Homo sapiens: one gene and its partner. The protein of the gene in region 1 interacts with the protein of each later gene in a pairwise test. Each region holds a gene or a part of one and is shown on either strand. Other genes may lie near its edges.

Region 1 (3,819 bases):
CCACCTACTTTCTAGTAAAGATTTTTCATATTTTTGTCTCTTCTTTTTTTTTTAAATAATTTCAACTTTTATTTTATTGGGGTACATTTGCAGGTTATTTTCTAAGCTTGCAAATACCAACATTAGAAGGAAATTATGTATTAAAGCACTTTTATTAGTTGTATTATTGGAAATTTGTTAATTGTTAAAACATCTCTTTAAAGGGAATAAAAACGTGTTATTAAAACAGCTTGTACAGATTAAAAGTAGAGATGGCACAAGGAAGAAGAATTATGTGAGGTAGATAAGGGTTCCCTGGATGGTGACTGCTGACCTCCTGTTCCTCAGATAGCTTTGTCCCGACTGATGGTCATTAGTGAATAGATCTGTCTGGCATGGTGTATGCTGGTCTGCCTGCTTGAAAAGAATCTGCAGACTCCAGAGACTCAGGACCAGGAAAAGGCAGATGCCCACTCCCCTGTATCTTATGTATCTTATGGACAGGCAGGCTCTCTGAACTGTCCAGGTGGCCACTCCCATCACTTGCCAGAGGAAAAGCATGAAAGGTAAAGTTAAGTAATGACCTAAGAGTCCAAAGAAGAGGGTAGGTCACATGGAGCTGGGGTAAAGGCAAACAAACCTCATACAAGAGATCTGATTAGAGCTTGAAAGAGAGTTTGAGTTGGCCAAGATCTGAGGATGAAACGCTGGGAATTTGGTAGAAGGTCTCTACTACAATTCAGGGACCTCATTCTGGAAGCATGAGTGTGTTCATGAAAACAGGGAGGGGACTTGAGCCTTCAACGACATACGGCAGGGTGGGTTAGGCAGAAGGCAGGGAGTCTTGAGGCCTCCACAGCATGTGGACAGGTGGCTGAGGAAGGACCCAGAGTGACTTGCTGGAGCCTTAGTCACCAAACGCTCTTGCAGCTTAGTGGGAAAGGTGTTCATTGTAAAATACGGTATTTACACAAAATGCACAAAAATACGTATGTACAGTTTAATAAGTTACTGTAAGGAAAACATCCATGTCACCCCCAACTGAGTCCAAGTTGGTTGCTTTAGTTTCATCATCACAGTGACACCTTAGAATAGTCCTGAGGGTATGTGCTTAGTTCACACTTTACTGATGAGGAAATTGTTGCCGCTCCGAGAGTTTAAAAGTATTTGCTGATGGTGCCATGACTTTTAAACGATGGCCTGCTGACTCTAGAGGCTGGTCCTGCATAACCAGTTAATGGCATGTGACTGGGGAAGTGAGGGTACAGTGGAAAGAGACAAGGATGCCTCAGCGATGCAGCTCATTTGAAGCAGGAAGCAGTGACAGGTGTTTGCTTATTTTCTCTGAGCTTCATTTTCAACCTTTATGGAATGAAAATTTTACTTTTAGATCGATAAAATTTTATTTCTGTATACTTTCTAGTTTTGCAGCATTTCCAGTTTCCAGGAGCCTCATGAATGGCTTTTTGGTTTAGTTAACTTTGTGGTCATGTAAGCCCTGCCTTTTGCTCAGTTTATGACCTTTGTTAAGGAGAAAAGTAGAACTGTTAATAATTAACGCAGCAGACATTGCCTCACTCCCACTTAAGTGTGTTTTGTTTTCTTTTTTCTAGAAAACACTTTCCTGGATAAAAAAGAAAACATTCCAGATGCATGATCCAGCTGTGTGTTTTCAATCCTTGGGAGGGTGCCATCCACATTTTAACAGTACCTGTGCCTGAGAATTTAATTTTTAAAAGACTTTGATGTGTTTTTGTATGAAGTACTTTTAACGTATGTATTTCATTGCTGTGTCACACTCTGTGTTTTGTGAGGTGAATGTCTTCCTTTTCTTTCTCCCTAACCACTAATGTTAGAATTGATTTCCAAGAATCGGCATGTATACTTAATACTGAATTTCTTTGATTTAACTGACTTAACAACTGACTAACCATTGATGAGCACTCCTGATTTTTATCTAGAACATTCAGATTTACCATAATGTTCCTTAGTGGTAGAGGTGTGTGCCTAGTGATGTAGAAAGATACACTGACTTGGTGCAAGGCCATCTGCTTACCACATCACACCACTTGGAGATCTTTGCTTCCTTGCTTTTATGTTTGTACACAACACCTAAAACCAGTTTTGCTGCTATAATTCTATACTGTTGATTCGTCTGCGATTTTATCTGTTAACCAAATAAAACATAATAGAATTTCCTAATGAGATATATCTTTATACTTAAACAGCTTTTTTAGAGGTGAGTTTTAAAGAAGTCTCTTAATTCTGATGCTAGGTTGTTTTTAAAACCACTATGCAAAGAACTCACCACAAGCCACCTTTTGTAGTGTTCTCCACTAATACTGGTTATCCTGTGCTACAGAGAAAATCAAAGCAGTCATAAGCTCCAGTTTTCGTATTGCAAATAAGACTCTTACCTACAAAATGAGATTCAGTGAACTAATTTGGTTTTTACTCAACCAAATTAAAAATTTTTTTAAGGAAAATTAGCAGTTGGTCTATTCAGAATCAAACCTTTTTATATTTTATACTGCACTTTAGTGTATTTTCTGTCACTGTAGGTATAGAAGATCTGCCTCCCCTGTGGAAATTGGGGTCTGTTGGTGGGCGTGCCCCTGAAGCCTGGCTTGGGTTGAAAAGTGTTCCCGCCCTAAGGCCTTGGTGCCCTGAACCTCTGATGCCTACCGGGTTCTCCTGATTTGAGTTTCCTTTAAATACTCCCTTTTTGAGTAATTTTCTGATGGGAGGAAAGTAGCAGTCATCATCTTTTTGTGTGCAGGCTGTCTCATTTATTTTTAGCCATTGTCGTTTCATTCATTTTGTGTAATATAAACCGTGTGTCATGTCAAAGTGAAAGACATTTCAAATCTGTAGCATAGGCTAGTGGGCAGGTCCGCACAGTCGAAGCCACACCTGGTCTGTTTTCTGTGCACTGTAGCCTTAGTGTCACCTTTCTTCTTGTGTCTCCTTATGGTACACTCCAGCGGTTGCCTTTTTTATCATTTCTACTGAAGTTGGGAAATTCAACCCCAGAAATTGACAGATGAAAGGAGACAATGGTTGTGTAGGGAGATGGAGAAAATGCTTAATCTGAGGATGAGACAGGGTTTTTTCATTTTTGTGGGGGCTAGAAAAAACATAAAATGAGGCAGTTAAATAATAATAGTTAATGAAGGTGTGCTACAGAAAATAATCTGGTGTTCTTGCTAACTTTGCCCTTCACTGTTGCTTAATTGTGAACAGCCAAAAGCTATATGTTATGGCTTATTGTGTGAAGGTAACTAAGAAGTGGTGTTCCATGACTTCAGAGTACATCCATGCGGAGTCCATTATTTGAGTTTGACATTTAATAACTTTGCTGGAAAATCTGTAAAAAAGAAAAACAAGTTTGCTAGTGACTAAGCCCCGCATATGTGAGTGAAAGTACTTCAGGCACGCTGCCTCCTGGTAACAGCTATGCAGGGAGGGAGGACCCACACTGCTACACTTCTGATCCCCTTTGGTTTTACTACCCAAATCTAAATAGATACTTTTGATAATAGATAACTGCTCTTTTACTAAGACATAGTCTCTACCTATAGAAATGTATTTTGAAAACACTTATTTTACACAGCAATTTTGTATCCATTTAAACTAACCTTTTATCAATAAAGCACTATTGTTTAGATATTAAATGAGTATTTCTCTTGGTTATTTGCAAGGGAAAGTTGTGAGGTTTTCTGGGAAAATTCAAAGTCTTGACAACATCTTTGTATAAAATCAAGAAAAATTACTTGAATCAATAGTGTCAGTACTGGACAAGTTTGTACGTATTGGAGATCCAGCCCAAAAGAAAGCACA
Region 2 (3,819 bases), on another chromosome or scaffold:
GCAGCTCAGCCTTCAAACCAATGTTCAAATTTTGCCTTACCTACTTTATCTTTTTTGGTTTTGTTTTGTTTTTGAAACAGGGTCTTGTTGTGTCACCCAGGCTGGAGTGCAATGTCCACAGCTCACTGCAGCCTCCAACCAGCAGCCTCAGGTGATCCTCCCACCTCAGCCTCCTGAGTAGCTAGGACTACAGGTACAATCTCTTATGAGACATCTTTTTGAAACATCTAGAAACTACAAACAGTCCACAGATTATACAAAATATAAAGAGTAAATTGTGCACAGTCGTTTACCGATTCCTACACACAAACGACTGTCACTTCAGACTACATTACCCTATTCTGGAGATGGTGCATTTCCCCATCCTTGATGGAACTGAAGTTCTTCGGGGTGAGAGGGGGACCAAAATAAGCAGAGGCTCTCTGTCCCCACCCCCAGTGTTCTCTCATCCCATCTGCCCCAGCAGAGCACCAGCATTCCCGGACTTCTACTCACCCCACAGGTAGGCTCCCCACCCCGCCAGCCTGTGCAGCCTCCTCCTGCAGTCCTGTAATCTTGAAGCTGCATGCATTTTTCATGGCAGAAACACCAGGTGCCTGTAAAACACCTTGTGACTTAAGGCAGGTGTTTATTTTTATATTTATTTATTTATTTAGAGACTAAGTCTCACCCTTGTTGCCCAGGCTGGAGTGCAATGGCGCAATCTTGGCTCACTGCAACCTCCGCCTCCCGGGTTCAAGCGATTCTGAGGCAGGTGTTTATTTTATCCAAAAGATGGACTAGTTTGCCCAGGGCTAGCTGGATCATGAACTGGCCAAATAGGGAAAGGTATCAGGACTCTGTCTCCTGACTTATGTCTTTCAGATGGTTTCTGCGGCTCTAAGCCGAAATCTCCAGTGCGTCCCAGGGTCACGTGGGTGGTGTATTAGAGCTGCAGGAATGTCTGTTTTGGGATTTCTGGTCTGCAGCTTACCTTGAGTTTAGGTTGAGCATGTGACTTAAACAATCTACTTCAGGTTCTGCACTCATTTAAAAGCAAAATTACAGACATGCAAGATGCCTGGCAAACAGGCACTAAATCCCAGCTACCATCGCTTTATCAATGCAAGAAGATTTAAATTTGAAACTGAACTAGAAAAAAAAGCATTTTTCATTGAAGTCAATAAGAGTGTCTTCTTCAGAGAAAGAAAACACACTTGCATGCAGAAAAGCCAAACAAGCAGACTTTCCTTTTCTCCACAAGTCCTTTCTTCCAAATTCACTGTAAGAGTCTCAGGCCCACTGAGATTGAAACTGGCCAGGGCAGTAAGTAATCAACCAAAGGAACTGCCAGTGATTGAGCTAAGTATTCCTTAGGCATAATAGAAGTTACATCATTTCCAAGTGAAAAATTGAAACATGAAGTATTGATCGTTTCCTCCCTGACAGATGCTCACCACTCCAGATGCAGATTTCTCCAGAATGTAAGAGGATTCTCCTCTGAGCATCTTTCTGGAAGGTGAGCTAAAGACTGTTGCGGGGCAACTGCCACCACCTGGCCTTCTTTTCTGACGGGTAATGGAAGCAACGACTGAGCAGAGGTCTCTCCAAAGACTGGTGTCAGAGGATGTCCTGGGCACAGTGAAGTGCCTCCCAAAGCACTGAGGAACCTGAAAGCAGAGAGCAGCGGACAGGCAGCCTTCCTTCCCGGGAAGCTCCAAGGCAGACAGTGGCCGAGAAGTTCTGTGATGCAAAGGAGACCCACTTCCTACTCCTCTCCTAAAAGCCACCATCACAGCTTAGCTTATTATTTGCTTAAAGATATATTTGCTTGTGGCCAGGAGCGGTGGCTCATGCCTGTAATCCCAGCACTTTGGGGGGCTGAGGCGGGAGGATCACAAGGTCAGGAGATCGAGACCATCCTGGCTAACACGGTGAAACCCCGTCTCAACTAAAAATACCAAAAAAAAAAAAAAATTAGCTGGGTGTGGTGGCAGGCGCCTGTAGTCCCAGCCACCTGGGAGGCTGAGGCAAGAGAATGGTGTGAACCTGGGAGGCAGAGCTTGCAATGAGCTGAGATCGCACCACTGCACTCCAGCCTGGGTGACAGAGTGAGACTCAGTCTCAAAAAAAAAAAAAAGATATATTTGCTTGCTAAAGTGGGATAATGGATATGTCACGAGGAGCACAAATTCTAATAAATTTGCATTTTATTAATATTAAAACTTAATGAAAAGTCCCACGCTTCTCCAAGCCACACAATGGGACAAGAAGCAAAGAAAGAAGTGCCAGCAACCTAAGTGTGAGCCAAGCTCAGGAAACCTTCTGCACCTTAGCAAGCCACTCTCAACTATACAAACAAAAGCAAGCCTCCCCTCGTCCCAACTGCCAAAAATTGACCTGATCACTAACGTCTCAGCAGCACTTCACTTATACATACAAGTAGCCACGTACACGTCTGAGAGTGCTTTCACACCAATGCACTATTTCATTTTAGCAGCCGCACTTCAACGGGGTGAAGTAGCTGCTCTCATTCCTTGCCTCACAGGTGAGGACACCCGACAGAAAAGCATCTCCAAGAGGGTGAAGGGGCAGAGCAAGGTTGGAGGCCAGGGACATGGGGGACGAATGCCGGCTGGATTCAAGGTCCAGGGCTTCTGAACCATGAACAACAAACCTTTGAAGGAACCATGGAGCTTATATGAGCTTAGACATACCTGTAACTAGCAATAAAAAACTAGTAACAAGCAAAGCCACTCATGTTTTCCAAATTGATCAGCAACTTTCACATCAAAATAAATTCATATGAGGCAAGTTTTAAATTCTGAAACATGCTAAGTTACCTTCTATTTACATCTTTAAATAAGTATACTTATATCAGAATTCTTTACCAATGAGTAAGGCCATGATTCCGGAGGCCAGCCTTCTTCGGTTGAGAATGCGGCAGGAGAAGTGGGCTTAATGGAACACATGTGGCACAGATCTCCAAAGCAGGTTCTCCATTAGTTCGTAATATATTTCCTTGTCAAAACTACCAGGACCATTCACTAAATGTAAACGAGCATTTCCCAAGGAAGGAAGTGAAAGATTTTTTTTTCACGTGAAACTCACTGGAAGCTGATGTTATATTTGCTATTTATACAAAGTGCTGCGAACATGGTCGGAAACAAAAAGAATCAGAGTCATTCACCTGCGTAAGGAAAAGCACAAGACTGAAATAGAAATAAGAGCAGACAACAATGAAGCACTGGCACATGGAGAACGAAACTAACATGCCGTTTTCTTACTATCTTGGTAAGAGACCCCAGCTAAGTAGCAACATTCTCCATCACCTCAGAATACAAGGGCGAACACTACAAGCTGCTGCTTGTTCATGTCAATCGTTTTCACCACTCTTTCCTTTCTTTGGCACAGAAGTAAACCCCAGTTGCAACTCAAAGGGCCCCATCTCTATGCCCTTCCTACTCTCAACCCAGGAGCACTTGAAGGAGAGGACAATGGGTCCAAGTCAGACCCCAAGGATCCTTTCTCCGCTTCTTACCCATCTTCCCCCCAATGAGTTTCAAAAGCCTGCTCCCTTGGTGCATTTCCACCGCCTGATGTCTGGGAAAGAGATACAGCAGGTATTTTTTTCTCTTCCCGTTTCCGAACTATTGTCCGCTGTTTGAAACACAAAACCATAGAAAACCATCAGTGATCCTTTGGAAAGGAAACAGCTTTAAGGGATCTCTTCGACTCCCCCCCAAAAAAGGATACTCACTGCCTCTTCAAAGAGTTTAAATATAGAAAGTCGCAGCCTCTTCGAAGGAGAGAGGGGACACATGCCCCATAAGTGCCACC

What was found.
Region 2: the proteins of SEPTIN2 (region 1) and CRAMP1 interact in a two-hybrid assay, tested with the Homo sapiens proteins (one large-scale study listed by IntAct).

What each region holds. Positions count from the first base shown.
Region 1 is NC_000002.12:241,350,375-241,354,193, forward strand, and holds the end of SEPTIN2 (septin-2), read left to right. Parts: intron 1-1,568; exon of another isoform or gene 1,569-1,592; 3' UTR 1,593-3,653; downstream 3,654-3,819.
Region 2 is NC_000016.10:1,615,119-1,618,937, reverse strand, and holds part of CRAMP1 (protein cramped-like), read right to left. Parts: intron 1-3,819.